Linked DNA regions of Homo sapiens: all the other regions are linked to region 1. The links come from fine-mapping of genetic effects on gene expression. A gene starts in region 1. Each other region holds a variant in brackets. All regions are shown on one strand. Distances are between the middles of the regions. Region 1 holds the start of SLC1A5 (solute carrier family 1 member 5). Region 2 has its middle 21 kb from the start of SLC1A5. Region 3 has its middle 7.5 kb from the start of SNAR-E. Region 4 has its middle 19 kb from the start of STRN4.

The links.
Region 2: its variant is fine-mapped to the expression of SLC1A5 in whole blood (INTERVAL, PIP above 0.99).
Region 3: its variant is fine-mapped to the expression of SLC1A5 in whole blood (TOPMed, PIP above 0.99). The same link has a PIP of 0.9 or more in blood mononuclear cells.
Region 4: its variant is fine-mapped to the expression of SLC1A5 in esophagus mucosa (GTEx, PIP above 0.99). The same link has a PIP of 0.9 or more in transverse colon.

Annotation. Positions count from the first base shown.
Region 1 is chr19:46,786,619-46,794,148 of GRCh38, forward strand. It overlaps SLC1A5 (solute carrier family 1 member 5), which reads right to left and starts at 1,976. Exons shown (of 8, transcript NM_005628.3): 1 at 782-1,976. The coding sequence starts at 1,347. RefSeq lists silencers at 1,054-1,103, 1,114-1,163, 2,134-2,293 and enhancers at 1,644-2,245, 1,894-2,188.
Region 2 is chr19:46,805,863-46,813,392 of GRCh38, forward strand. It overlaps the pseudogene HNRNPMP2. Among named protein-coding and RNA genes, the nearest start is that of SLC1A5, 21 kb to the left of the region's middle. The variant A/G (reference allele first, on the strand shown) is at 4,212.
Region 3 is chr19:46,819,437-46,826,966 of GRCh38, forward strand. No RefSeq gene overlaps it. Among named protein-coding and RNA genes, the nearest start is that of SNAR-E, 7.5 kb to the right of the region's middle. RefSeq lists enhancers at 2,134-2,253, 2,424-2,483. The variant G/C (reference allele first, on the strand shown) is at 3,207.
Region 4 is chr19:46,761,976-46,769,505 of GRCh38, forward strand. No RefSeq gene overlaps it. Among named protein-coding and RNA genes, the nearest start is that of STRN4, 19 kb to the left of the region's middle. The variant G/A (reference allele first, on the strand shown) is at 2,973.

The DNA.
Region 1 (7,530 bases):
GAATGAGCAAGCCCTAAAGGCAAGCGCAAGGGGGCCTCTGCCCCCCGCCCTCCTCAAAGTGGGGGAGGCCATTCTTGGGGGCGCGGGGCAGAGGCCAGGAGAAGGAAAAGAATCTGCTCCCCTTTCTAACTGGTCCTCTTCTGGGCTGCCTGCTAGGGGGTGGCCCAGACAGAGGAGGAAACGGGAGGGAAAGGCAGGGGTGGCAGGGCTGATCTAAAAGATAAAGGGGAAGCGGCCAGACCCCAGCTGAAATGGGCGGGAAGCGGAGGCCAAAAACAGAGCCTGGTTATGTCCGAGTGACACGTGGTGTGGGGGTGCCCCAGGGCTGGGAAGAGGGCCTGGTGGGAGTTACTCAGATCTCAGATCCTCCAGGGGCTCCTTACCCAAACTCTCCAACCCTGGCCCCAAATTATATCTAGAAGCCCCATCTTGGGGCCCTTGACCACGCAAAGATTCCCCCCGCAAAAGTTCCTCCTGGGGTCCCCTCCCCTCAGTGTCTTTCTCCCCTAGGCAGACCCTCCTATGTCTCCCCAAATCACTTTCTTCTCCCTCTATAAGACCCCACTTATGTACCCAGGCCCCCAGATTTAGAAACCCCTTCCCCAGGAGACTAGACTCACACTCCCGAGGGCTGGAGCCTCCCCTCAATATCCTGTCGAGTTTTCCTAAGACTCTAGAGGGAAGTCTCTGCTCCAGGGGCCCCAAAGCCCCGTCCTGTCCACGTGACCACTCCCGCCATCCGTAACACTCTTCCCCACCTCCCGGGGGAGCGGGAGCTGACCTCGCAAGATCCAGGAACGAATCGAGCACCTCCTTGCTGGGGGCATTTTCGGCACTGCCCGCGGCTCCCACGGAGGCGTTGATGGCGGCGGAGGCGGCGCCCGGCTGCAGAGCCAGCGCCAAGCCCACTCCGAGCGCCGACGCCAGCAGCGTGGTGACCAGGAAAAAGAGCAGCGCCCAGGCGCCCAGACGGCCGAGCGCGCCGGGGTCCAGGCTGGCGGCGCCGCCGATCAAGCTGCACACCACCAGCGGCAAGATGATCATCCGCAGCAGACGCAGCAGCAGCTCGCCCGGGAAGACGAAGGCGCTCAAGCGCTCCGGGCCCAACGCCAGCGCACCCCCGGCCCCCGACACCCCCAGTCCCAGCGCCACGCCGGCCACCACGGCCACCACTGTCAGCAGCACAAGCAGGTTGGCTCGAAGGCAGCGGCGCACCTGGTCCCGGGAACCGCAGTAGCCGCCTGCTGCCGCGCCTTGGTCCTCGATGGAGGCCAGCGCCAGGCCCCCGTTGGCGGTGGGCTCCGCCGCTGCGAGCCCCTTGGAGTCTCGAGGAGGATCGGCCACCATGATGGGAAGCACCGGGGTTTCTTAGCGCCTGGAAGCTGGCTGGGAGCGCTTGGGCTCCTTCCCAGGACCCGACGTTCCTAGGACTGAGTTGAGTAACAGCACCTGGAGACTGGAACTTTGGAGGGCTCCTTAGAGTTGTGAGTTCACAGCACTGAAGTTCCTTGGCTCTTGGAAGCTGGAGTGTTTAAATTCCCCAGGCTGGGCGCTGAGGCTTCTCTGCTCTGCCCCGTGTGCCAGATGTCCGAAAGCTGGGAGTTCGGAGCGCCCGGGTTCCTTGGCCCTAGGAGCTGGGAATACGAGAGTTTCTCTGGGTGGGACGTGGGGCCCTTGGCTCCAGGAGGTTGAGTGCCCCCAGATGGCGGAGGTCTGCAGGAGGCTAGGTTCTGGTGGCGCAGATCCCGGACGCCTGGATCCGGGAGGCGGGGACCCGGGCTGCCTGGGTCTTGGACACTGAGGGCTGGGATGCCAGAATCTGGGGGCCGGGAAGCGGACCTCCGGAAACAGGGGACCCAGGCTCTTAGGTCCGGGAGGGTGGGATGCGGGCCCCTGTGTACGGAAGGCGGTGGTCTGGTGTCCGGGAGTAGCGGTTACCAGCCAGAGAAAGCCTCCCGGGCGTGCCGCGTGGCTCTGAGCCCGTTTAGCGGAAGCTGCCAGGGATAAGGGTAGGGGGCGGGGCTTGAGAAGGCGGGGACCGACCCTCGGGCGCCGATTGGCTGCAGAGCGTTCGGAGACTGGACGAGTAGGGGCGGGGCTGATACCCGAGATGGGCCAGGTCCCCCATAGAAGGCAGATTAATAATACCCATCTCCAGGAGCCGGGCCCAGAGACGACGGGGCGGGGCCAGGAAGGGGCGGGGCCTTGGGAGGGTGCTGTTTCCCGCCAAAGGAACTGGGTTGTGGGTTGGAGCCCTTAAACCACAGGGGTTCGTTCCCTGGTGCGAGGGTCGCTAGAAAGCTCCGGTGGTCCTCGGTGATTCATTTGCAACTCAACTCAGCTTTGGAACTCCTCAGCCCTGAGTTTGGTCTTTAGTCGCCTCTGAGAACTTTAATTCCTCGAATATAAAGTGCAGGTGTTAAAAGCTTTTGTCTCATATGATTGCTGTAAGATTTAAATAAAATTGATGTATTTATTTAGGGAGCCGTGGCTCAAGCCTGTAATCCCACCACTTTGGGAGGTGAAGCGGGCGGATCACTTGAGGTCAGGAGGTCGAGACCAGCCTGGCCAACATGGTGAAACCCGTCTCTACTAAAAATACAAAAATTACCTGGTGTGGTGGCACGTGCCTGTAATCCCAGCTACTGGAAGCCTGAGGCAGGAGAATCGCTTGAACCCCAGAGGCAGAGGAAGTCATTCACCTTGAGGCCACACCTAGAGAGGATGACACGTGCATGCCCACCTCCCAAGCCCCTAACCGCACCCACTCTGCTGCCTCCCCAAATTCTCTGTTAGTGGCCGTTTGGGAGGTTAACAATGAATTATGATTCCTTACTCCACCTGACAGTGTTGAAATCCTCATTCCTTTCCCATCTCTAGCCTGTTCTGTGACATTTCAGGCTTTCATGCTTGCTCAAAGATTGTAGTGGTAATGTCAGAAGCTTCCTCCTACAGCAGCTGTGAGGCCTCAGGTAATTTACAACCTCTATGAGGCTCAGTCTTCATATGTGTAAATGGGAATAATAATAAGTCATACCGCCTTGAGTGTTGCAAGGGTTCAAATGAGATAATACGGCCGGGCGCAGTGGCTCACGCCTGTTATCCCACCACTTTGGGAGTTGATGCGGGCAGATCACTTGAGGTCAGGAGTTCCAGACGAGCCTGGCCAACATGGCAAAACCCTGTCTCTGCTGAAAATGCAAAAATTAGCTGGGTGTGGTGGCACATGCCTGTAATCCCAGCTACTCAGGAGGCTGAGGCAGAAGAATTGCTTGAATCCAGGAGGCAGAGGTTGCGAAGAGCCGAGATCTCACCACTGCACTCCAGCCTGGGTGACAGAGTGAGACTCCACCTCAAAAAAAAAAAAGTTATTTATTTGTGCTTTAAAATTTTTTGTTCTTTCTCTCTTCTTTTGTTTCTAACAAAAATGCCCTTCAGAAGAAAGTCAAATACTACTGCTGCGATTGCTGTTATTGTTATTATTACTGAAGAACAAGCTGGATTCAGTGGCATGCACCTGTAGTCCCAGGTATTTGGGAGGCTAAAGCAGGAGGATCCCTTGAGGCCAGGAGTTCAAGGCTGCAGTGAGCTATGATCGTGCCCACATTTAGCCACTAGACTCCATCCGGGGCAACATAGTGAGACCTTATCTTTAAAAACATGAAAATAGGCCAGGCATGGTGGCTCATGTCTGTAATCTCAGCACTTTGGGAGGCCAGAGTGGGCAGATCATGAGGTCAGGAGATCGAGACCATCCTGGCCAATATGGTGAAACTCTGTCTCTACTAAAAATACAAAAATTAGTTGGGCATGGTGGCATGCACTTGTAGTCCCAGCTACTCAGGAGGCTGAGGCAGGAGAATCGCTTGAACCCGGGAGGTGGAGGTTGCAGTGAGCCAAGATCACACCTCTGCACTCCAGCCTAGTGACAGAGTGAGACTCCGTCTCAAAATAAATAAATAAATATTTTAAAAAATTTTTCGGCCGGGCATGGTGGCTCACGCCTGTAATCCCAGCACTTTGGGAGGCCGAGGCGGGTGGATCACAAGGTCAGGAGATCGAGACCATCCTGGCTAACACGGTGAAACCCCGTCTCTACTAAAAATACAAAAAATCAGCCAGGCATGATGGCGGGCGCCTGTAGTCCCAGCTACTCGGGAGGCTGAGGCAGGAGAATGGTGTGAACCCGGGAGGCGGAGCTTGCAGTGAGCCGAGATCACGCCACTGCACTCCAGCCTGGGCGACAGAGCGAGACTCCGTCTCAAAAAAAAAAAAAAAAAAAATTTCACAGTGGCTTACACCCTTAATCCCAGCACTTTGGGAGGCCAAGGTGGGAGGCTCACTTGAGCCCAGGAATTTGAGACCAGCCTGGGCAACATGGCGAGACTCCGTCTCTACAAAAAAATTAAAAAATAAGCTGAGTGTGGTGGTATGCGCCAATAGTCCCAGCTACTTAGGAGGGTGAGGCGGGAGGATCGCTTGAGCCAGGAGGTCAAGGCTACAGTGAGCTGTAATCTCACCACTGCACTCCAGCTTAGGTGACAGAGCAAGACTCAGTCTAAAGGGAAAAAAGATTTAGGCTGGGAGCGGTGGCTCACGCCTGTAATCCCATCACTATGGGAGGCCAAGGCAGGTGGATCACTTGAGGTCAGGAGTTCAAGACCAGCCTGGCCAACATGGTGAAACCCCATCTCTACTAAAAATACAAAAACATGAAAATAGGCCAGGCACAGTGTCTCATGCCTGTAATCCCAGCACTTTGGGAGGCCTAAGTGGGCAGATCATGAGGTCAGGAGATGGAGACCATCCTGGCCAATATGGTGAAACCCTGTCTCTACTAAAAATACAAAAATTAGTTGGGCGTGGTGGCGGGCGGCTGTAGTCCCAGCTACTTGGGAGGCTGAGGCAGGAGAACTGCTTGAACCCAGGCGTCAGAGGTTGCAGTGAGCGGAGATCACACCACTGCACTCCAGCCTGGGCAACAGAGTGAGACTCTGTATCAAAAAAAAAAACAAAAAAACAAAAAATTCCTTGGCTGCTAGAGCTTGCATTCTAGTGCAGAGAGACAAGACAATAAACTTGGGCTTGGCCGGGTGCAGTGGCTTACACCTGTAATCCCAGCAGTTTGGGAGGCCGAGGCGGGCGGATCACTTGAGGTCAGGAGTTCAAAACCAGCCTGGCCGACATGGTGAAACCCCATCTCTACTAAAAATACTAAAAAATTAGCCGGGTGTGGTGGTCCACGCCTGTAATCCCAGATACTCGGGAGGCTGAGGCAGGAGAATCGCTTGAACCTGGGAGGCAGAAGTTGCAGTGAGCTGAGATCTCACCATTGCACTCCAGCCTGGGCAACAGAGCCAGACTCTGTATCACACACACACACACACACACACACACACACACAAAATCCTTGGCTGCTAGAGCGTGCATTCTAGTGCGGAAGAGACAAGACAATAAACTTGGGCTGTCAGCTGGAACTAAGCGTTGGGAGAAAGCAAAAGCATCCTATGAGTGACAGAGTGAACAGTTCAGCCACTGGAAGGAAGTGACATCTGCACTGAGATCTGAAAGATAAGAAGGAGCCCATGGCATAATGTGGAAACATTCAAAGGACGCGTGTGAAGCCCTGAGGCAACAGAGAGGTTTCCATCTCTGTTAGCAGTGCTCACAGACATGGTTTTATCCCCACTAATCCAGGAGACCAGCTCACACTCCCATTTTCCTGATTTGGAAGCAGATAAGGGTAATGAGGCTTGCTGTGGCCCAAACCCCAGGCATAAGCAAGAAATCTGAACTCAGATGTTTCTGATCCTTGTCTGCATCTCCTATCAGACACCCTGGCTACCCCTGCACTCGGCTGTCTCCAACTAGACATTTCCTTCAAGGGACAGTCATGTATTCTGAGCCCAGTGTTGGGTCCTGCGATGGGTGATACCAGGGACCCAGTGGCGAACAAGACAGTTCTGGCCCCGTTCTGCTGGGACTCAAAGTTCAGGGGGGGACACAGATAGTGATGATACAGAGTGGGCAGGGCTGGGATGGGGGAGCCCAGAAGGGATGCTTGACCAGGCTTGGGGGTCAGGGAGAGCTTCCTGGAGGAGGAGGCATCGGAGCTGGGATATGAAGGAGTTGGACCAATCCCAGGGAAAGAATATTCCAGACAAAGAGAATAGCACATGCAAAATCCCAGACTTCTGGCCAGGCATGGTGGCTCACGCCTGTAATCCCAGCACTTTGGGAGACTAATGCGGGTAGATTGCTGGAGACCAGGAATTCCAGACCAGCCTGGCCAACATGGCAAAACCCTGTCTCTTCTGAAAATAAAAAGTAAAAAAAATAGCCAGGACTAATGGCACACGCCTGTAATCCCAGCTATTCTGGAGGCTGAGGCAGGAGAATCACTTGAACCCAGAAGGCAGAGGTTACGGTGAGCCAAGATTGCACCACTGCACTCCAGCCTGGGCAATAAAGCAAGACTCTGTCTAAAAAAAAAAAAAAAAAAAAAATCCCAGACTTCAGAAGAGTCTGGAATATTTCAAAGCACAGATCTAACTGGGCCACCCCTACTCTCTGAACAGCCCCAGTGGCCTCCCTCAGGATGAAAACCACTCTTCAGCTAGGCATCTGTCCGCTTGGTGATTCATTTATTCATTCATTCAACAAACCACATCCACAGAATAGAAGACTGAGAGACATCAAATAGAAGGAGACGGATGCCCATGAGCTGACATGGGATCGTTGTGATGACTCATCTGGCCAATATTTATCAAACACTGAGAAAAACAGATGAGGAGCCGGGAGCAGTGGCTCACTCCTGGAATCCCAGCACTTTGGAAGGTTGAGGTGGGTGGATCTCTCAAGGCCAGGAATTCAAAACCAGCCTGGCCAACATGGTGAAACCTCATCTCAACTAAAAATACAAAAATTAGCGGGGCGTGGTGCTACCTACCCGTAATCCCAGCTACTCGAGTGGCTGAGACAGGAGAATCACTTGAACCTAAGAGGCAGAGGTTGCAGTGAACCAAGATTGCACCACTGCACTCCAGCCTGGGCGACAAAGCATGAAAAGAAAAAAAGGCAAAGAAAAACAGATGAGAAAAACACGAGCAAAACAGATGAAAATCCCTTCTCTGCTAGCACTGATATTCTAGCAGCAGGACACGGTCAATAAATACTAAACATAATATGCATGTAGGCTAAGTGGGTTATCTGGCTTGTAACTTATTGTCACAAAGCAGAAAGTGCTGTGGAGGGAAATATATATGTATGTATGCATGCATTAGGAAAAGTGAGGAATTAGATGAATGAAGGGTAAATTGCAATAATAAATCAGGCTGGGATCAGTGGTTCACAACTATAATTCGAACACTTTTGGAGGCCAAGGCAGGAGGATCACTTGAGCTCTGGAGTTCAAGGTTATAGTGAGCTGTGATCGTGCCACTGCTGCACTCCAGCCTAGGGAACACAGTGAGACCTTGTCTCTAAAAAAATAAAAATTAGGTGGTCACAAAAGTATAGAGGGAGGCCAGG
Region 2 (7,530 bases), 19 kb after region 1:
GGGGTCATGGTGAGGTCATGGTGCCACCTTTCAGTTGCAAGAGAAAGGGAGAAGCCGTGACTATTGTGAAAGCAAAGTAGAATCTCAGGACCCCGAATTCACTAGGTCAAAGGGAAAATTAAGCTGGGGAACTGAGGCACCAGTACTGTCTTCCTTTTGTTCCCAGATTGCTGTAATTTTCCAACCCCGTATCATAGCTTAATTTACTCTTTTTTTTTTTTTTTTTTCTGAGACAGCGTCTCGCTCTGTTGCCCAGGCTAGAGTGCAGTGGTGAATCTTGGCTCACTACAACCTCCGCCTCCCGGGTTCAAGCAATTCTCCTGCCTCAGCCTCCCGAGTAGCTGGGACTACAGGCACCCGCCACCACGCCTGGCTAATTTTTTGTATTTTTAGTAGAGACGGGGTTTCACTGTGTTAGACAGGATGGTCTCGATCTCCTGACCTGGTGATCCACCCACCTCAGCCTCCCGAAGTGCTGGGATTACAGGTGTGAGCCACCACGCCTGGCCATTTTTTAAATTTCATTTTATTTATTTTTTTTGAGATGGAGTCTCACTCTGTTGCCCAGGCTGGAGTATAGTGGTAAGAGCTCAGCTCACTGCAGTCTCCACCTCCCGGGTTCATGCGATTCTTGAGCTCAGCCTCCTGAGTAGCTGGGATTACAGGTGCCTGCCACCACACCTGGCTAATTTTTATATTTTTAGTAGAGACAGGGTTTCACCATTTTGGCCAGGCTGGTCTTGAACTCCTGACCTCAGGTGATCCACCTGCCTCTGCCTCCCAAAGTGCTGGGATTACAGGTGTGAGCCACCGCACCCGGCCAACACCGGATCGTATCTTGAAGGGAGAAGGGCTTCATGCAGGATCAGTGGGGAACATCAAAGGGTCTAAGCAGCAGAGTGACACAATCAAGTTTGTGTTTAGAAGCTTCTGCACTCTCACACATTTGCTGGTGGGTGTGGAAGTTGGTACGGCCTCCCTGGAAAGCCATTAGGCAAAAGGCCTTAATTTTAGATCCTCCCACACCCTTTGACACAGCAGTTCTTCTCTGAGGGATTTATTCCACGGCTATTGTCTTGCATGCGAAAAATCACCACAGCCCTGCTTGCAGTAGCAAAAGACTAGAAGCAAACTAAGCACATACCAGGAAGGAACCAGCAAAATATGTTGTGGCCATTCATGCTATGGAACACTAGACAGCTGTAGAAAAGAATGAGCCACGTTTACAGGCATTGCACTGGCGTGCTGGTAAATACTTAACCAGGCCGGGCATGGTGTACTTCCAGCATTTTGGGGGGCCTAGGTGGGAGAAGGGCTTGAGCCCAGGAGTTTGAGACCAGCCTGGGCAACATAGCAAGAACCCTGTCTCTACAAAAAAATACAAAAATTTGTCTGGGTGTGGTGGCTTATGCCTGTAATCCCAACACTTTGGGAGGCCAAGGTGGGCAGATCACTTGAGGCCAGGAGTTCAAGACCAGCCTGGCCAATGTGGCAAAACGCTGTCTCTACTAAAAATACAAAACTTAGCCAGGTGTGGTGGTACGTGCCTGTATTCCGAGCTGTTTGGGAGGCTGCAGCATGAAAATCACTTGAACCTAAGAGGTGAAGGTTGCAATGAGCTGAGATCACACCATTGCATCCAACCTGGGCGACAGAGCTGGACTCTGTCTCAAAGAAAATACAAAAATTAGCTGGGTGTGGTGGCACGTGCCTATAGTCCCAGCTACTCAGGAGGCTGAAGAGGGAGGATCGCTTGAGCCCAGGAGGTCGAGGCTGCAGTAAACTCTGATTGCACCACTGCACTCCAGCCTGAGTAACAGAGCAAAATCATCCATATATATATATGTATGTATGTGTGTGTATATATATATACACACACACATATGTGTGTATGTGTATGTATATACACATATGTATATATGTGTGTATATATATATATACACATATGTGTGTGTGTGTATATATATATATACACATATGTGTGTGTGTGTATATATACATAATTTTTTTTTTTTGAGACGGAGTCTCGCTCTGTCGCCCAGGCTGGAGTGCAGTGGCATGATCTCAGCTCACTGCAAGCTCTGCCTCCCAGGTTCACCCCATTCTCCTGCCTCAGCCTCCCGAGTAGCTGGGCCTACAGGTGCCCGCCACCACGCCCAGCTAATTTTTTGTATTTTTAATAGAGATGGGGTTTCACCATGTTAGCCAGGATGGTCTCGATCTCCCGACCTCATGATCTGCCTGCCTCAGCCTCCCAAAGTGCTGGGATTACAGGCGTGAGCCACTGCGCCCAGCCAATATATATATATATATATTTTTTTTTTTTTTAATTTAACCACCAGCTCTCTAGGGAAGAAACAGCCCTAATTTATACCATTTGCCAATTTCTACAGTGTAAATATTCCCACTGTGGTTGATTTCTAGTTACTGATAGGATGTCATTGGATGTGGAATTCAGAAGAGACAAGCAACCACCCACTATCACTCAGGATTTCCACCAGGCAGAGATAAGTAGCCTGGAGAGCATAGATAATAGTAAAAATGTAGCAATTAGGATGCAATGCATTTGAACTATTTATTATATTTGTTTTTAACATAATTTATTTATCTGTAACTTTGTATCATTTAATTGTTAATAATACCTATGTTTAACAACTGGTTTGTGAAATTCCCAAAAGTGTAGCAATCTGCTCTTGAGAACTGGGCACAGCACACATTGAGACACAAATGGATCTTCAAGAAGAGAAAGCAAAAGCCAACTTTTGGAAAATGGCCTGGAAGGTTCTACACTGCTCACTCCCTTAATTTTAATTTTATTTATTTATTTATTTATTTATTTATTTATTTATTTATTTATTTTTTGAGACAGGGTCTCACTCTGTCACCCAGGCTGGAGTGCAGTGGCGCAATCGCAGCTCACTGCAGCCCCCTGGGCTCAAGCGATCCTCCCATCTCAGCCATCTGAACTACAGGCACGCACCACCGCACCCAGCTAATTTTAAATTTTTTTTTTTTTTTTGGAGATGGAATCTCACTATGTTGCCCAGGCTGGTCTCAAACTCCTAGGCTCAAGTGATCCTCCCACCTCGGCCTCGCAAAGTGCTGAGATTACAGATGTGAGCCACTCGCCCAGCCGTCATTGTATTTCTGTACAGCACTGTCTTTCTCCCCCACTAGAATGTCACCTCCACAAGGGTAAGAACTTGATCTATTTTGGATTGTTTTTTGTTTTTGTTTTTGTTTTTGCCATATGCCCAGTGCCTAGAAAAGCACCTGGCATATAATAGGTACTTAGTAAACCTGTGTTGAATAAATAAATTTACTATTTATTTATTTATTTATTTTGAGACGGAGTCTCGCTCTGTCGCCCATGCTGGAGTGCAGTGGTGCAATCTTGGGCCACTACAACCTCCGTCTCCCGGGTTCAAGTGATTCTCCTGCCTCAGCCTCCCGAGTAGCTGGAACTACAGGTGTGTGCCACCACACCTGGCTAATTTTTTGTATTTTTAGTAGAGACGAGGTTTCACCATGTTAACCAGGATGTTCTCAATCTCCTGACCTTGTGATCCACCCATCTCAGCCTCCTGAAGGGCTGGGATTACAGGCTTGAGCCACCGCGCCCGGCCAATTTACGCTTAAGGAAAAAAAAAAGGTGCACCAGCCTGGACAATATAGTGAGATCCTGTCTGTACAAAAATTTTTAATAAATTATCCAGGTGTCATGGGCTTCAGCCTCAAGCGCATGGCCGCTCCCATTGACCATGTGGGCCAGACCATAGAGCACATGGGCTCTGGCGTGGAGCACATTGGCCCTGCCATCGAACACGTGGGCCTGAACATGGAGCACATGGTGCTTGCAGGCATGGAGGCTGGCTTGGAGCACATGGGCCCCATGATGGATCACATGGTCACTGGCCTAGAGCACATGGGTGCCAAGAGCCTCACGTGCATGGGCCTGGCCATGTGTGGCAGTGGCGGTGCCACCTTTGACCATGCCATCGGTATGGAGTGTGGCAACTTTGGAAGCTTTGCAGGTTCCCTTGGTGGAGCAGGAGACCATGCTCCTGGGCATGGCCAGGAAGGCATGCCAAATATTTGTAAGAAATCTCCCATTCAATTTTACATGGAAGATGCTAAAGGACAAATTCAACGAGTATGGCCACATGCTGTACACTGACATCGAAATGGAGAACGGGAAGTCCAAGGGGTGC[A/G]GTGTGGTTAAGTTTACGTCCCCAGAGGTGGCTGAGAGAGTCTGCCGGATAATGAACAACATGCAGCTGAATGGCCAAGACTGATGTTCAAATAAATAGAAATGCTTAAGCAGTTGCCTTTTTTAAACATCAATACCAGACCTCTGAATTTGTATTTTTTCTTGTTAACTTTTTTTTTTTTTTTTTGAGACAGGGTTTCGCTCTTGTCTCCCAGGCTGGAGTGCAGTGGCGCGATCTCGGCTCACCACAACCTCTGCCTCCCGGCTTCAAGAGATACTCCTGCCTCAGCCTCCTGAGTAGCTGGGATTACAGGTATGTAATACCATGCCGGCTAATTTTGTATTTTTAGTAGAGACAGGGTTTCTCCATGTTGGTCAGGCTGGTCTCGAACTCCTGACCTCAGGTGATCCGCCCACCCTTGGCCTCCCAAAATGCTGGGATTACAGGCATGAGCCACTGTGCCCGGCCCTCTTGTTAACCTTTTTATTTTTCTTTTCCTTTTTTTTTTTTTTGAGACACAGTCTCACTCTGTCGCCCAGGCTGGAGTATAGTGGTGCAATCTCAGCTCACCGCAACCTCTGCCTCCTGGGTTCAAGCGATTCTCGTGCCTCAGCCTCCCAAGTAGCTGCGACCACAGGCATGTGCCACCACGCCTGGCTAAGTTTTGTATTTTTAGTAGAGATGGGGTTTCACCATGTTGGCCAGGCTGGTCTCGAACTCCTGACCTCAAGTGATCCACCCGCCTTGGCCTCCCAAGTGCTGGGATTACAGGCATGAGCCACCACACTGGCTTTTTTTTTTTTTTTTTTTTTGAGACAGAGTCTCGCTCTGTCGCCCAGGCTCAGTGCAGTGGCGCGATCTCGGCTCACTGCAAGCTCCGCCTCCCGGGTTCACGCCCTTCTCCTGCCTCAGCCTTCCGAGTAGCTGGGACTACAGGCACGCGCCACCGCGCCCGGCTAATTTATTTATTTATTTTTATTTTTGTATTTTTAGTAGAGACAGGGGTTTCACCATGTTAGCCAGGATGGTCTCGATCTCCTGACCTTGTGATCCGCCTGCCTCAGCCTCCCAAAGTGCTGGGATTACAGGCATGAGCCACAGCGCCTGGCAGCTTTTTTTTTTTTTTTTTAATTTAGCATTTTAATTTTTTTTTTTTTTTTTTTTGAGACAGAGTCTCGCTCTGTTGCCAGGCTGGAGTGCAGTGGTGCAATCTCGGCTCACTGCAACCTCCAACTCCCTGGTTTAAGCGATCTTCCTGCCTCAGCCTCCTGAGTAGCTGGGATTACAGACACGTGCCACCACATCCAGCTAATTTTTTTTTCTTTTTTTTTGTATTTTTAGCGGAGACGGGGTTTCACCATGTTGGCCAGGATGGTTTCGAACTCTTGACTTCGTGATCCACCTGCCTCAGCCTCCCAAAGTGCTGGGATTACAGGTGTGAGCTACCGCGCCTGGCCAATCATTTTATTATTTATTTATTTATTTATTTACTTTTGAGAGAGTCTCGCTCTGTTGCCTACGCTGTAGTGCAGTGGCACAGTCTCAACTCACTGCAAACTCTCTCTCTCAGGTTCAAGCAATTCTCCTGACTCAGCCTCCCAAATAGCTATACTACAGGCACTCACCACCACACGGGGCTAATTTTTTTTGTATTTTTAGTTTCACCATGTTGGTCAGGCTGGTCTCACCTGACCTCAGGTGATCCACACACCTTGGCCTCTCAAAGTGCTAGGATTATAGGCATGAACCACCACGCCAGACCACTTGTTAACCATTTTAATTTGTTGGCTGGATGTATAAAGATGTTAAAAAAGCTTGAACCCAGGGAGGCAGAGGTTTCAGTGAGCCAGAGATCGTGCCATTGAGCTCTAGCTGGGCGACAAGAGCAAAACTCTATCTCAAAAAGAAAAAAAAAAAAGAAAAAGATGGTAAAAAAAAAAAAAAAAAAAACCAGTTGCTTTTTGGGCTAATTTAATTACTTTTTTAAATGACTGGTGTTCCATTTGACTGTTTGCCTTGAGATTGCACTGTGCGCAATTTTTTTTGTAGTTATGGTGTCTTCTTGACATTGAATATGATTTTGATAATAAATACTGGTTCTTGAAAAAAAAATTAGCCAGGTGTGCTGGTGCACGCCTATAGTCCTAGCTACTTAGGAGGCTGAGGTGGGAGGATGGCTTGAGCCCAGGAGTTGGAGGATGCAGGTGAGCCCTAATTGTGCCACTACACTGCAGCCTGGGTGACAGACAGAGAGACAGAGAGACCCTGTCTCAAAAATAAATAAATGAGGCCAGGCAAGGTGGCTCAGGCCTGTAATCCCAGCACTTTAGGAGGCCGAGGTGGGCAAATCACGAGATCAAGAAATCGAGACCATTCTGGCCAACATGATGAAACCCTGTCTCCACTAAAAATACAAAAATTAGCTGGATGTGGTAGTGCGCGCCTGTAGTCCCAGCTACTCGGGAGGCTGAGGCAGGAGAATTGCTTGAACCCGGGAGGCGGAGGTTGCAGTGAGCTGAGATCGCACCACTGCACTCCAGCATGGGTGACAGAGCAAGATTCAGTCTCAAACAAAAACAAAAACAGAAAACAAAATTAGCTGGGCCTGGTGGCACATGCCTGTAGTCCCAGCTACTTGGGAGGCTGAGGCAGGAGAATCGCTTGAACCTGGGAGGTGGAGGTTGCAGTGAGCTGAGATCGTGCCGTTGCACTCCAGCCTGACTGACAAGAGCAAAACTTTATCTCAAATAAATAAATAAATTAAATAAATGAAAGTTGCAGACACATGTGAATGACCTGGGCAGCATTTCTCCACCTGCGCTTGCATTTGCTAGACAGTCTGTGACTCTCTGTGGGAGAAAACACAAGAAACCGGCCCCTCTGCTGGTTCCCCACCTGGCCTGGCTCTCCTGTTCTCCACCCTGCACACTCATGCCTCGGAACCTGCTTCTCCTCTGAGCCTCCCTCACAGTGGCCCGGCCCACGTGGCCTTTAATCTGCCCACATCAGAGCCTCCACCTCCGGCCTATGGCCCATCAGAGGCAGCTGGAGCCGGGCATCCTCCCCACGTGGGCCTTTGAGGATGGGATGAAGGAAGCTGAGCGGAGGTCGCAGTGCCTCCCAGGAGGGGCCTGGAGGGGAGGGAACAGGGGAGAGGAGAAGGTTTTTCCACTGTGTCCCCTCCTGTGACTGTAGAAATGAGCCATGTGACTTCAATTACCTATTAACATTTTTTGAAGTGTTCTATAAAAAGTGCCAGCCTCGGGCTACCGTGGGGAGCAGGGAAGGAGGAGGGTGAGTCCAGGCGTGAGGAGGCCGG
Region 3 (7,530 bases), 33 kb after region 1:
GGAAGAGTCTCTACAAAAAATTTTTTAAAATTAGCCGGGCATGGTGGCACACACCTGTAGTCTCAGCTACTTGGGAGGCTGTGACAGGAGAACTGCTTGAGCCCAGGAGGCTGAGGCTGCAGTGAGCCATGATCAGGCCACTGCACTCCAGCCTGCATCATAGAGCCAGACCCTGTGGTAAAAAAAAAAAAAAAAAAAAACCTCCAGAACAGTAAGGTAGTAAATAAATCTGTCTCCTATGGAGCCACTAAGTGTATGGTCATTTGTTACAGGAGCAATAAGAAACCAATACCCTTGGCTGTGCACGGTAGCTCACCCTTGTAATCCCAGCACTTTGGGAGGCCGAGGCAGGCGGATCACCTGAGGTCAGGAGTTCAAGACCAGCCTGGCCAACATGGAGAAACCCCGTCTCTACTAAAATACAAAAAAAAATCAGCTGGGTGTAGTAGTGGTGGGCGTCTGTAATCCCAGCTATTCAGGAGGCGAGACTGAGGCAGGAGAATCACTTGAACCCGGGAGGCAGAGGTTGCAGTGGGCCGTGATCACGGCACTGCACTCCAGGCTGGGTGACAGAGCGAGACTTCGTCTCAAAAAAAAAAAAAAACAAAAAAAGCCAGTCACAGTCTGCATGGAACAGAGGAAGAGCGGGTGGAAGATGAGGTCAGACAGAGAACAGGGAGCTGGTGAGTCATGGTGAAGATGTTGTCTTTTAGTGAGTGTGGCAGGAGCCACAGAAGGGATTTGAGGAGGAGAATGACATCATGTCACTTCTGTCAAAGGATTCTGCTGCCATATGGGGACCTTTCTGTTGGGGACAAGGGCAGAAGCAGCGAGGAGGTGACTGCAATTTTCCAGGTGAGAAATGATCATGGCTAGACTAGCTCTGGGGGTTCAGACTTTGTTTTTGTTTTTGTTTTTGTTTTTGTTTTTGTTTTGAGGTGGAGTCTCGCTGTGTCTTGTCCAGGCTGGAGTGCAATGGTGCGATCACGGCTCACTGCAGCCTCCATCTCCCAGCTTCAAGCGATTCTCCTGTCTTAGCCTTCCGAGTAGCTGGGATTACAGGCGTGTGCCACCACACCTGGCTAATTTTGTATTTTTTAGTAGAGACGGGGTTTCACCATGTTGGCCAGGCTGATATCGAACTCCTGACCTCAGGTGATCCGCCTGCCTAGGCCTCCCAAAGTACTGGGATTACAGGCGTGAGCCACGGCGTCCAGCCTTTGGGGGGTCCGACTTCGGGTGCATTTTGAAGGTCAACAGGATTTCCCCTGGATGGGATGTGGGGTGTGAAAGCAGAGAGGAGTCATGAGCCCTTTCTAAGTTTCCAGACAGCATGCTTGAACACACGATGGTTTCTCTGGGGCTCAAGGACATTAGGCTACTCCTGGCCCTTAGCGTGTAGCTGTACACAGGAAGTGTCCTGCTGTGCTGTATTAATTAAAGTGGATGTTGTCAGCCGAGTTGGAGACATCCCGGGGGAGGAAAGGCCGGGCTGACCCTGGTTAACTTCAGGCAGGTGTCAGGCATGCAGCGAATGTCATCTTCCGCCTCTCATTCTCCCTCTGGGCTGGGCCTGCCTCTTCTTTCCCCAGCTAGCAAATAAATCATCTCTCCCATCTCCACCTGGAATTCATTCTCACTCATGTTTAATGAGGCTACCACACCCTTCTGCCAGGTGTGTCTTCACCCAGGTCGCTGATAACTACAAATAGGTTATATTTCAACTCTTTTGAGTATGCTGTGAGGTAGAGATCCAATTTCCTGCTGCGTGTGCAGAACAGAAGACAACTGTCTCAAACAAAAAGAAAAACCAAAACAATTATTTTAGGCCTGGCGCAGTGGCTCACACCTGTAATCCCAGCACTTTGGGAGGCTGAGGCAGGAGGCCGAGCTGGAGCTCAGTAGTTCGAGACCAGCCTGCGCAACATAGGGAGACCCCTGTCTCTGCTAAAAATTTTAAAAATCAGCCTAGCGTGGTGGTGCACGCCTGTAGTCCCAGCTACTAGTGAGACTGAGGCAGGAGTGATGGCAGTGGCTGCTGTCATTACACCGGCTGCAGCAGGGAGGTGCGGCTGGGGCTACACACTCCATGGAGCCGGTGGAAGCCCTGCCCCTTCTGAGCTGTGGTGGGAGTTCCCCAGATGCCACTGCAGCCGCCCAAACCGCCACTGTGGATTGAGCCTTCCTGTGCTCTTGCAGGGGCCAGAAGTAGGTAGGGTCTGCCCTCCCGGGTGCAGCTGCAGCTGCCCCCATGGCTGCCAACCTAGGCCTCCAGCTCCACAGAGTGAGCAAGAGCCGGGGACAAGTGGGAGCCCCACCCCTTCCGAGTTGGCAGGGCAGGAGCTCCCCGGATGCAGCTGTGGCCGCCCTCTGAGGCTGAGGACCTGGGCCTCTCTGCAGCCTGCACTCTCAGAGGCCGGGAAGGCCCCCCCAATCTCTGCAGACTGCTGGGTGTCTTCTCCTGCTGCCTGGCCTCTCTTCTCTCCCAGCGCCAGCTCTGATCTGGGATCGGGGTTGGGGTCCAGTCCTGGGGCCATGAATGGCAGCAGGAGGCAGACGGATTCCTGGGCAGAAGTTGGTGGGGGGTCCCTAGTAAGGCCCCACCTTCTTGCCAGGGAGGGCCTGAAGGCTGGGGGCCAGGCTGCCAACCCCACAGACAAGAGTGGGGACTTGTACCTCCTCTGGGCCCACGCATGGCAGCCCATGGACCAACCAGCACGTACTTCCTCCTCTCTGAGGTCCATAAAAGCCCCAGGCTCCACCAGAGCAGGGCAGAGGGCAGAGGACAGAGAGACAATGGGATTACCACCTGCACAGAGGAGCTACCCTCTCTACTGAGAGCTTCAGAGACCTGCAGAGACGCCTACATGACCTGCCTGCCGAGAGGAACCACCCTCTTCAGGGCCTCATCTCTGCTGAGAGCTGAACACTCGATGGGGTGACCTGCCTACTGAGAGGAGCTGCCCACTGACGGTCTCCTCTGAGCTGTTCTAAGACTAAATAAAGCTCCTATTCATCTTCTTCACCCTTCACTTGTCTGTGTACCTCATTCTTCCTGGACACAGGACAAGAACTTGGGCAAAGGCACTGCAGCCACAGAGGTTTCTGGCCAGAAAAGCAACACCCCAAAGATCCCGTAACAGGAGGATCACTTGAGCCCAGGAGGCGGAGGCTGCAGTGAGCTGAGATTGCACCACTGCACTCCA[G/C]CCTGAGTGACAGAGCAAGGCCCCAACTAAAAAACAAAAAACAAAAAAAGCCCAGATATTTTATAATAAAAAAAAAATTTTATGGCTGGCCACGGTGGCTCACGCTTGTAATCCCAGCACTTTGGGAGGCCAAAGTGGGCAGATCACTTGAGGTCAGGAGTTTGAGACCAGCCTCACCAACACGGTGAAACCCCATCTTTACTAAAAATACAAAAATTAGCCAGGCATAGTGGCACACGCCTGTAATCCCAGCTACTGGGGAGGCTGAGGCACGAGAATTACTTGAACCTGGGAGGCAGAGGTTGCAGTGAGCTGAGATCGTGCCACTGCACTCCAGCCTAGGCAACAGAGTGAGACTCTGTCTCAAAAAAATAAAATAAAATAAAATAAAAAATAAAGTGAATGGGAAGACACAGAGTCTAGCACTCTAGAAATCTGGGTTCCAGTCTCATCTGCTCATTGTGTGTCCTTGGGCAAATGATCTTCCTTATCTACAAAGAGGAGATAATACTCAGAATTGCAATGCTAATACCAAGAGCCACTTCACAGCGTCATTACAAGATTAAATGGGATTATGCCTTTAAAGCCTTGGAAGCTGCTGGGCCTAGAGCAGGAGCTCCCCCTAACAGTTCAGAAGCTTCCTTGAGGCTGGGCTCGGTGGCTTACACCTGTAATTCCAGCACTTTCGGAGGCAGAGGTGAGCAGATCACTTGAGCCCAAGAGGTTGAGACCAGCCGGGGCAACATGATGAAACCGCCATTTCTTTTTTTTTTTTTTTTTTTGAGACTGTGTCTCGTTCTGTTGCCCAGGCTGGAGTGCAGTGGCGCGATCTTGGCTCACTGCAAGCTCTGCCTCCTGGGTTCACACCATTCTCCTGCCTCAGCCTCCCAAGTAGCTGGGACTACAGGCGCCCGCCACCACGCCTGGCTAATTTTTTTTTTTTTTTTGTATTTTTAGTAGAGACGGGGTTTCACCTTGTTAGCCAGGATGGTCTCGATCTCCTGACCTCATGATCTGCCCACCTCGGCCTCCCAGTGTACTGGGATTACAGGCGTGAGCCACCGCGCCCGGCCTTGAAACCACCATTTCTACAAAAAACACAAAAAATTAGCCAGACTTGGTGGCATACACCTGTAATCCCAGCTACCCAGGAGACTGAGGTGGGAGAATCACCCAAGCCTGGGAATTCAAGGCTGAAATGAGCCATGATAGTGCCACTGCAGTCCAGCCTGGGCAACAGAGTGAGACCCTGTCTCAAAAAACAAATAAAACCGCCAGGCACGGTGGCTCACACCTGTAATCCCAGCACTTTGGGAGGCCGAGGTGGGCGGATCACGAGGTCAGGAGATGGAGACCATCCTGGCCAACATGGTGAAACCCCATCTCTACTAAAAATTCAAAGAATTAGCTGGGCATGGTGGCACGTGCCTGTAATCCCAGCTACTCAGGAGGCTGAGTTAGTAGAATTCCTTGAACCAGGGAGTCAGCGGTTGCAGTGAGCCAAGATGGCGTCACTGCACTCCAGCCTGGCGACAGAGAAAGACTCTGTCTCAAAAAAAAAAGAAAAAAGAAAGAAAAAGAAACACCGTCTCTAAAAATACAAAAATTGGCCAGGCATGGTGGTGGGCACCTGTAATCCCAGCTACTTGGGAGGCTGAGGCAGGAGAATTGCTTGAACCTGGGAGGTGGAGGTTGCATTGAGCCGAGATCGCGCCATTGCACTCCAGCCTGGGAGACAGAGTGAGAGTCTGTCTCAAAAAGAAACAAAAACAAAAACAAGAAGCTTCCTTGTTTGGTGGCTTTCTCAGGTTCCTCTTCGACTTTCTGTTCTCTAAACCCTGGAGCCCCTCAAAAGCCCAGAACTGACTCTGGCCTGTGCTTTAGTGCAGTTGCACCAGGGTTGCAAACACATGGCCTGAGGGCTCCATCCAGCCACCACATTTCGTTTGCCACCCCAGAGTATTTTTAAGTTTTTTGGTTTGTTTTTTTTTTGAGATGGAGTCTCGCTCTTGTCACGCAGGCTGGAGTGCAGTGGCACGATCTCAGCTCACTGCGGCCTCTGCTTCAGCCTCCCAAGTAGCTGAGATTACAGGCGTGCACCACCATGCCCGGCTAACTTTTTTATTTTTAGTAGAGATGGGGTTTCACCATGCTGGCCAGGCTGACCTCAGATGATCCGCCTGCCTCGGCCCCCCAAAGTGCTTGGATTACAGGCATGAGCTACCACGTCTGGCCCCCATGTCTTAAAAGAAAATAAAAGACAGGTGATCTCCACTCCACAGGCTCCACCACCCGCGTGGTCTTAAGGGCACCAACTTGAGTGGCTGTCACTCTCAGCTGACTGAGACTTACTCTTGCTTCCCATTTCACTGAGAAGAAGGAAGTCATTGGAGTAGGGACTTTTGGGAACTCCCCACACCAACACCACCACCACCTGCCTTGGCGCCCACGCACCCCTTCCTCCCAGATGCCTCTCGTGTGCTTGGATAATCCCAGCTGCGCCTTCCATCCCTCTCCCATCTCTTTCCTGCATCTTCCGGTTTCCCCTTGTCTGTTGCATCATCCCCATCAGCATAAAACTGATGATTTGAGCTGAGCGCGGTGGCTCACACTTGTAATCACAGCACTTTGGGAGGCTGAGGCGGGCGGATCACTTGAGGTCAGGAGTTTGAGACCAGCCTGACGAACATGGCGAAACCCAGTCTCCACTAAAAATACAAAAAATTAGCGGGGTATGGTGGCGGGCGCCTGTGGTCCCAGCTAGTTGGGAGGCTGAGGCAGGAGAATCGCTGGAGCCCAGGAGGCAAAGGTTGCGGTGAGCCGAGATCGCACAACTGCACTCCAGCCTGGGCATCTGTCTCAAAACAAAACAAAACAAAACAAAACAAAAACCTGCTGTGATATCATCCACTCCACCAAACACCCTCCAATCTCATTCCCCCCTCTAGCGACTATTTCTCTTCTCCCTTTATAGCAAAACTTCCTCTAAGGTTTTTTTTTTGTTTTTTTTTTTTTTATTCAACATTATCATCAGACACTTATATTTAGCCATCAACAGCATGGGTGCAAAACAAAAATCTACATTAAAACCCTTTGTTGGAATGCTTTGCACTTTCCACAGAAGAGAAACTGAAATAACCTGTTATACGATTAGTCACAAATACAGTCCTGGAGTTTTTTGTTTTTGTTTTTTGTCCATATACATGAGTATTGTCTCCAATACATCTTCCACTGGGTATGGTGGCTCATGCCTGCAATCCCAGCACTTTGGAAGGCTAAGGCGGGAGGATTGCTTAAGCCAGGGAGTTTGAGATCAGCCTAGGCAACATAGTGGAACTTCGTCTTTAAAAAATATTAAAAAATCAGGAGCCGAGGGTGGTGGCTCACGCCTGTAATCCCAGCACCTTGGGAGGCTGAGGTGGGTGGATGATTTGAAGTCAGGAGTTCAAGACCAGCCTGACCAACATAGTGAAACCCCATCTCGACTAAAAATATTTTAAAAATAGCCGGATGTGGTGGTTCACGCCTGTAATCCCAGGTACTCGGGAGGCTGAGGCAGGAGACTCCCATGAACTAAGGAGGCAGAGCTTGCAGTGAGCTCCAGCCTGGGCGATGGAGGGAGACTGTGTCTCAAAAAAAAAAAAAAAAAATAGGCAGGCATGGCGGCACGCACCTGTGGTCCCAGCTACTCGGGAAGCTGGGGTGAGAGGATTGCTTGAGCCCAGGGGTTGAGACTGCAGTGAGCTGTGATCATGCCACTGCACTCCAGCCTTGTCAACAGAGTGAGAGCCTGTCTCAAATCAAACACGGCCGGGCGCGGTGGCGCATGCCTGTAATCCCAGCACTTTGGGAGGCCGAGGCAGGCGGATCACAAGGTTGGGAGATCAAGACCATCCTGGCTAACACGGTGAAACCCCGTCTCTACTAAAAAATATTAAAAAAAATTAGCCGGGCGTGGTGGCTGGCACCTGTAAATCTCAGCTACTCAGGAGGCTGAGGCAGGAGAATGGCGTGAACCCGGGAGGTGGAGCTTGCAGTGAGCCGAGATCGCGCCACTGCACTCCAGCCTGGGCGACAGAGCGAGACTCCGTCTCAAAAAAAGCAAACAAACACAAAAAACACACCTTCTTCATAACAGACAGGCCCTGCCACCCCTGTGCCTGGCTGAGTTCACAAGTCTGTTTGTAACCTGAGCTTCCCTGTCATTTCCCTGGCTCTGTCTGCTGGCTAAGCTTCATTTCCCCAAAGTAACTAAAGCTTTCTGCCACCGCCCTGGCCACCAGGGCTGCTGGAACTGCCATAGCCATCTTGGTTTCATGTTTTG
Region 4 (7,530 bases), 25 kb before region 1:
CTCAGCCTCCCGAGTAGCTGGGACTACAGATAAGTACTACCACACCCAGCTTTTATATATATATATATATAAATATATTTATATATATAATGTCTCTACTAAAAATACAAAAATTAGCTAGGTGCGGTGTCGCACGCCTGTAATGCCAGCAGTTTGGGAGGCCAAGGCGGATGGATTACTTGAGGTCAGGAGTTCGAGACCAGCCTGGCCAACATGGTGAAACCCCATCTCTACTAAAAATACGTGTGTGTGTGTGTGTGTGTGTGTGTGTGTGTGTATTTTAAGTAGAGATGGGGTTTCACCATGTTGCTCAGGCTGGTCTCAAATTCCTGGACTCGAGTGATCTGCCCACCTTGGCCTCCCAAAGTAGGATTTTCTTAAATCATGTTAAATCATGTGCCAGTGGGTTATACTGTCTATGAACTTCATTTCAGGAGAACAGAGAGAACTTTCCCAGAACTGACATTCAAGCCAGCACACGCCCTGGTATGGCCACGCCAGTGGTTAAGACAGCAAAACACTAAATTATGGATTATTTACTCATTCATAAACGGTCACTGCCATGAACCCCCTGACTATTAGTATCCTCCTAGCTCTCCCTGGGGATCCCCTGGGCTGCCCTCTGGCCCAGAAGTCCAGGGGTTAAACTGGGTATAGTGGGAGATAAGAGGGACCCATATCCCGGATGTTGGATGGACTGATGACTTTGCCAAGCAGTAAATATTTTGTCTATCAGCCCTACATGTTACAAAATATTTGCTATGAACAATAGTGGCATGTAAAGACCTGTCTACATTAGCCAGGTGTGGTGGCTAATGCCTGTAATCCCAACGCTTTGGAAGACCAAGGCTGGAGGATCACATGAGCCCAGGAGGTGGAGGCCACCCAGGGTAATATGTTGAGACCCTGTCTCTACCAAAAAAATTTAGGAGGGGCGAGTGGCTCATGCCTGTAATCCCAGCACTTTGGGAGGCTGAGGCGGGCAGATCACTTGAGGTCAGGAGTTTGAGACCAGCCCAGTCAACATGGTGAAACCACGTCTCTACTAAAAATACAAAAATTAGCCAGGTGTGGCGGCTCACACCTGTAATCCCAGCACTTTGGGAGGCCGAAGAGGGCGGATTACTTGAGGTCAGGAGTTCAAGACCAGCCTGAACAACATGGTGAAACCCCATCCCTACTAAAAATACAAAAATTAGCCGGGCGTGATGGTGGGTGCCTGTAATCCCAGCTACTCAGGAAGCTGAGGCAGGAGAATTGCTTGAACCTGGGAGGTGGAGGTTGCAGTGAGCCGAGATTGCACCACTGCACTCCAGCCTGGGCAACAGAGCAAGATTCTGTCTCAAAAATAAAATAAGGTAAATAAAAAATAAAAAACCTGTCTACAAATGCACCTTTATGCACAATAGCCCCAACCTGGAAACCATCAGATGTAAATCAACAGGTGGGTGGATAAGCAAACTGTGGTACACTCAGACAACATAATACTCCTTAGCAAGTTTTTTAAAAAAGGAAAGAACTGGGCCGGACGTGGTGGCTCACGCCTGTAATCCCAGCACTTTGGGAGGTCGAGGCGGGCCGATCACCTGAGGTCGGGAGTTCAAGACCAGCCTGACCAACATGGCAAAACCCTGTCTCTACTAAAAATACAAAATTAGCTGGGCATGGTGGCACATGCCTGTAATCCCAGCCACTTGGGAGGCCAAGGCAGGAGAATCACTTGAACTCGGGAGGCGGAGGTTGTAGTGAGCCGAGATTGTGCCATTGCACTCCAGTCTGGGCAACAAGAGTGAAACTCCATCTCAAAAAAAAAAAAAGAAAAGAAAAGAAAGAACAAACTACTGATACATGCAAAAATAAGAATAAATCCCAAAAGCATTATGACACATAAAAAAAAGCCAGATGCAAGACGCTACATAGTATATGATTCCACCAATGTAAAATTCTAGAAGAGGTAAAACTAATTCATAGTGACCAAAAGCAGATCAGTGGTTACCGGGGCCTGGAGCTGGAGAGAGGGGCAGACTGCAAAGAAGCATGAGGAAATTTGGGGATGATGAGAATATCATGTATCTTGATTATGGGAGTGGTTTTTCACAGTATATTCATCTGTCAAAACTCATTTAACTGTATTTTATTTATTTATTTATTTATTTTGAGACAGGGTCTCGCAGCATTGCTCAGGCTGGTCTCAAACTCCTGGGCTCAAGCGATCCTTCTGCCTCGGCCTCTCAAAGTGCTGGAATTACAGGCATGAGCCTGGCCTAATTGATTTTAACGGGTGCAATTTATCATATGAAACAATTTTTTTGGAGCCAGCCTTGCTCTGTTGCCCAGGCTAGAGTGCAGTGGTGCAGTCTTGGCTCACTGCAACCTCTACCTTCTGGATTCAAGTGATTCTCATGCCTCAGCCACCTGAGTAGCTGGGATTACAGGTGTGCACAACCACACCTGGTTAATTTTTGTATTTTTAGTGGAGATGGAGTTTCACCATGTTGGCCAGGCTGGTCTTGAACTCCTGGCCTCAAATGATTTGCCTTGACCTCCCAAAGTGCTAGGATTACAGGTGTGAGCCACCTTGCCCGGCCTATTGTATGTAAATTATACCTCAATAAAGTTGACCTCAAAAAGAGCAGATGGGGGCAGAATCCAACAGGCCTAAGAACATTGACCTGTCTCTAAGAGAGACAAAACTGAGTCACTGCCCTCTGCCTTTCTGTCCCCATACTGCCACTCTGAGCCTAGAACCCAGGACCAACCCTAATCCGGGGCCAGCCTGGGCCCTCCTTCCTGGGCCAAGCTCCTTCAAAGAGGCAAGAGGGGTGGGTGGGGCAATGGAGAAAGGGAGAGAAAGGTGGGAGCTGGGAACTGGGACCCAGGGAGTGACCGTCAAAGTGCCTTTTCTTCTGCTCTTACGTAACCTGCACTAGCAGCCTTTGGGTGAGGCATAAGAGAGCCATTGTCACCGGCGG[G/A]TGAGACCTGGCAGTGCTCATCCAAGGTCACATAGTTGCCAGGCAGCAGAGTCGAGACTGAACCAGCCTCTTCCACCATTCCACGAGTGTTTATTGAGCTCCTGCTATACGCATGCACCGGACCCTATGCTAGACTCTGAGCCTACAGCAGTGAACAATTCAAAGATGGTTCCCCCACAGAGTGACCTTCCCAGTGGGGACAGGCAGGAAACAATAAACATCATAAACCAGTGAATTCTATCGTCTGTTGGGAGGGGACTGTTGCTATTAAAAAAGGAGAACAGGGCAGGGCACGGTGGTTCACAACTATAATCCCAGCACTTTGGGAGGCGTAGGTGGGAGGATCCTTTCAGCCCAGGAGTTCAAAACCAGCCTGGACAACATACAGAGACTGTGTCGCTACAAAAAACAAAAATTAAGAAAAAAAAATAGCTGGGCAGGGTAGCATGGGCCTATAGTCCCAGCTACTTAGGAGGCTGAGGTGGGAGTGTCACTTGAGCCTGGGAGGTCAAAGCTGAAATGAGCTGTGATCATGAAACTGCATTCCAGCCTGGGCAACAGAGCAAGACCCTGTCTTTAAAAAAAAAAAAAAAAAGTAGAGCAGGCCTGGCGTGGTGGCTTATGCCTGTAATCCCAGTACTTTGGGAGGCCGAGGTGGGAGGATTGCTTGAGCTCAGGAGTATGAGCCTGGCCAGCCTGGGCCATAGAGCAAGACCCCATCTCTGTTTGTTTGTTTGTTTGTTTGTTTGTTTGTGACAGGGTCTATCTCTGTCTCCCAGGCTGGAGTGCAGTGGCGCGATCTTGGCTCACTGCAACCTCTGCCTCCCGGGTTCAACAATTCTCATGCCTCAGCCTCCCGAGTAGCTGGGATAACAGGCGCCCGCCACTACACCCAGCTAATCTTTGTATTTTTAGTAGAGACAGGTTTTTGCCACATCTCTCGAACTCCTGACAGCGAGTGATCCACCTGTCTCGGTCTCCTAAAGAGCTGGGATTACAGGCGTGTACCACGACACCTGGCTAATTTTTGTATTTGTAGTAGAGACAGGGTTTCGCCATGTTGGCCAGGCCGGTCTTGAACTCCTGGCATCAAGTGATCTGCCTGCCTCAGCCTCCCTAAGTGCACAGATTACAGGCATGAGCCACTGCGTCTGCCCAAGACCCCATCTCTTAATAAAAAAAAAAAAAAAAAAAAAAAAAAAGAGGAAAAGGGCTGGGCGTGGTGGCTCACGCCTGTAATCCCAGAACTTTGGGAGGCCTGAGGTGGGCAGATCACGAGGTCAGGAGATCGAGACTATCCTGGCTAACATGGTGAAACCCCCGTCTCTACTAAAAATACAAAAAAAAAAAAAAAAAAAGCCGGGTGTGGTGGCGGGCGCCTGTAGTCCCAGCTACTCGGGAGGCTGAGGCAGGAGAATGGCGTGAACCCGGGAGGCGGAGCTTGCAATGAGCCGAGATCGTGCCACTGCACTCCAGCCTGGGCGACAGAGCGAGACTCCGTCTCAGAAAAAAAAAAAAAAAGAGAAAAGGGTAGAATAGGGTATGGGTTGGGTGGGTGAGGGTGGGGGCAGGAAGCAGGGGTGGTAGAATTAAATAAAGCGGTCAGAGAAGGCTCACTGAGGTGACATTGCAGCCAAGTCGAGAGGGAGGTGTGGGAAGAGCCAAATGGAAATCTGGGGGGCAGAGCAGCCAAGAGAGGAACAGCCTGTGCAAAGGCCCTGAGGCACCAGCAGGCCTGGCATGTTCAAGGAATGGCAGAGGCTGGAGTAAGAGAGGGAGGAGGAGAGTGGGAAGAGGTGAGGTCGGTGAAGTAAGGCGCATCCTACAGAGGCTATGGGGAGCACCTTGGATTTTTCTCTGGGTTCTGAGCTGCGGAGGGCCACGAGCTGCCATGATGGAAACAGGCGCCCTCTGGAGGCCATATGGGGAACAGACGGAAGAGGTTGGGGCTCAGGAGTCCCGGCGTGAAGGCAATTGCAATAGTTCAGGTGGGAGATGATGGCAGCTGGCCAGGGTGGTACCCAGTGTGGAAGGTGTAGAGGGGCCAGATTTGGGGTTTGAGGGCAGAGAAACTGAGATTTCTGGTAGCTTGAATGTGGGATATGACGGGCAGAAGGAGGGCGTAGCAGGGGAAGGAAATAAAGTGGCTTGTTCTGTATGTGACTGGAGCCCAGCTCCTTGCACCAACCCGGGCTCCTGCACCCCTCAGCAGGCCCAGGGATCCCCACCGCCAGGCCGGAGCCAACCCCATGGAACCCAAAGTGCTCAAGCTCCCCAGTGAATGAGGCTCTTAATGTATCACCGCCCGTCAGGCCTGGCCTGGCATCCGGGTTTCTCCACCTGCGGGGTGCAGGGGCCACATTGGTGGGTTCCAGATTCCAAGTTCCAGTATTTGGAGGAGGTGGCAGAGGAGGGCCCCCACCCCACCGTTTTCATCTTTCACCCAAGATTTGCACAGGTTTCATTTTAATGACAGTCCACTGTCTGTTTGTTAGTTAGCTTTGAGATAGAGTCTCACTCTGTTGCCCAGGCTGGAGTGCGGTGGCAAGATCTCAGCTCACTGCAACCTCCGCCTCCTGGGCTCAAGCGATTCTCCCACCTCAGGCTCCTGAGTAGCTGAAACTACAAATGTCCAGATAATTTTTTACATTTTTAGTAGAGACGGGGTTCCACTATGTTGGCCAAGCTGGTCTCAAACTACTAACCTGAGATGATCCACCTGCTTCGGCCTCCCAAAGTGCTGGGATTACAGGCATGAGCCACTGCGCCCAGCCACCCAGCCACTGGTTTTAAAAAATGTTTGACACTGGGCACAGTGGCTCATGCCTGTAATCCCAGCACCTTGGGAGGCTGAGGTGGGTGGATCACCTGAGGTCAGGAGTTGGAGACCATCCTGGCCAACATGGTGAAACCCCATCTCTACTAAAAAAAAAAATACAAAAATTAGCCGGGCGTGGTGGCAGGCACCTGTAATCCCAGCTATTCGGGAGGCTGAGGCAGGAGAATCGCTTGAACCCGGGAAGTGGAGGTTGCAGTGAGCTGAGATCACATCATTGCACTCCAGCCTGGGGGACAAGAGCGAGACTTCATCTCAAAAAAAAAAAAAAAAAAAAAGCAGTGGCTGGGTGCAGTGGTGCATGCCTGTAATCCCAACACTTTGGCCTGGGAGTTCCAGACCAGCCTGGGCAACATAGTGAGATCCCTTGTTTACAAAACAAAACAAAACAAAAACAAAAACCTTTTCTAATTAAAAATAGCTGGGCATGGCCAGGCACAGTGGTGGCTCACTCCTGTAATCCCAGCACTTTGGGAGGCTGAGGCAAATCACCTGCGGTCGGGATTTCGGGACCAGCCTGGCCAACATGACAAAACCCCGTCTCTACAAAAAATACAAAAATTAGCCAGGCCTGGTGGCAGGTGCCTGTGTGGGGAAAAGAAAAAGAGAGATCAGACTGTTACTGTGTCTATGTAGAAAAGCAAGATATAAGAAACTCCATTTTGATCTGTACTAAGAAAAAATTGTTTCTGCTTTGAGATGCTGTTAACCTGTAACTTTAGCCACAACCCTGTGCTCACAGAAACATGTGCTGTAAGGAATCAAAGTTTAATGGATTTAGGGCTGTGCAGGATGTGCCTTGTTAACAATATGTTTGCAGGCAGTATGCTTGGTAAAAGTCATCGCCATTCTCCATTCTCTATTAACCAGGGGCACAATGCACTGCAGAAAGCCGCAGGGACGTCTGCCCAAGAAAGCCTGGGTATTGTCCAGGGTTTCCCCCGACTGAGACAGCCTGGGATATGGCCTCATGGGAAGGGAAAGACCTGACTGTCCCTCAGCCTGACACCTGTAAAGGGTCTGTGCTGAGGAGGAGTAGTGAGAGAGGGAGGCCTCTTTGCAGTTGAGATAAGAGGAAGGCTTCTGTCTCCTGCTCGTCCCTGGGAATGGAATGTCTCGATGTAAAGCTGACCATTCCCATTCGTTCTATTCTGAGCTAGGACAAAACCTCCCTGTGGCTGGAGGCGAGATATGCTGGCAGCAATACTGCTCTGTTGCCCTTTGCTACACTGAGATGTTTGGGTAAAGAGAAACATAAATCTAGCCTACTGCACATCCAGGCACAGTACCTTTCCTTGAACTTACTCATGATACAGATTCCTTTGCTCACATGTTTCCCTGCTGACCTTCTCCTCACCTGTTGCCCTGCTACACTCCCCTCGCTAAGATAGTAAAAATAATGATCAATAAATACTGAGGGAACTCAGAGGCTGGCGCCAGTACAGGTCCTCCGTATGCTGAGCGCCGGTCCCCTGGGCCCACTGTTCTCTCTCTATACTTTGTCTCTGTGTCTTATTTCTTTTCTCAGTCTCTCGTCCCACCTGACGAGAAATACCCATAGGTGTGGAGGGGCTGGTCCCCTTCATGCCTGTAATCCCAGTTACCGAGGAGGCTGAGGCAGGAGGATTGCTTGAATCTGGGAGGCAGAGATTGCAGTGAGCTGAGATCATGCCACTGCACTCCACCCTGGGGACAGAGTAAGATTCTGTCTTAAAAAAAAAA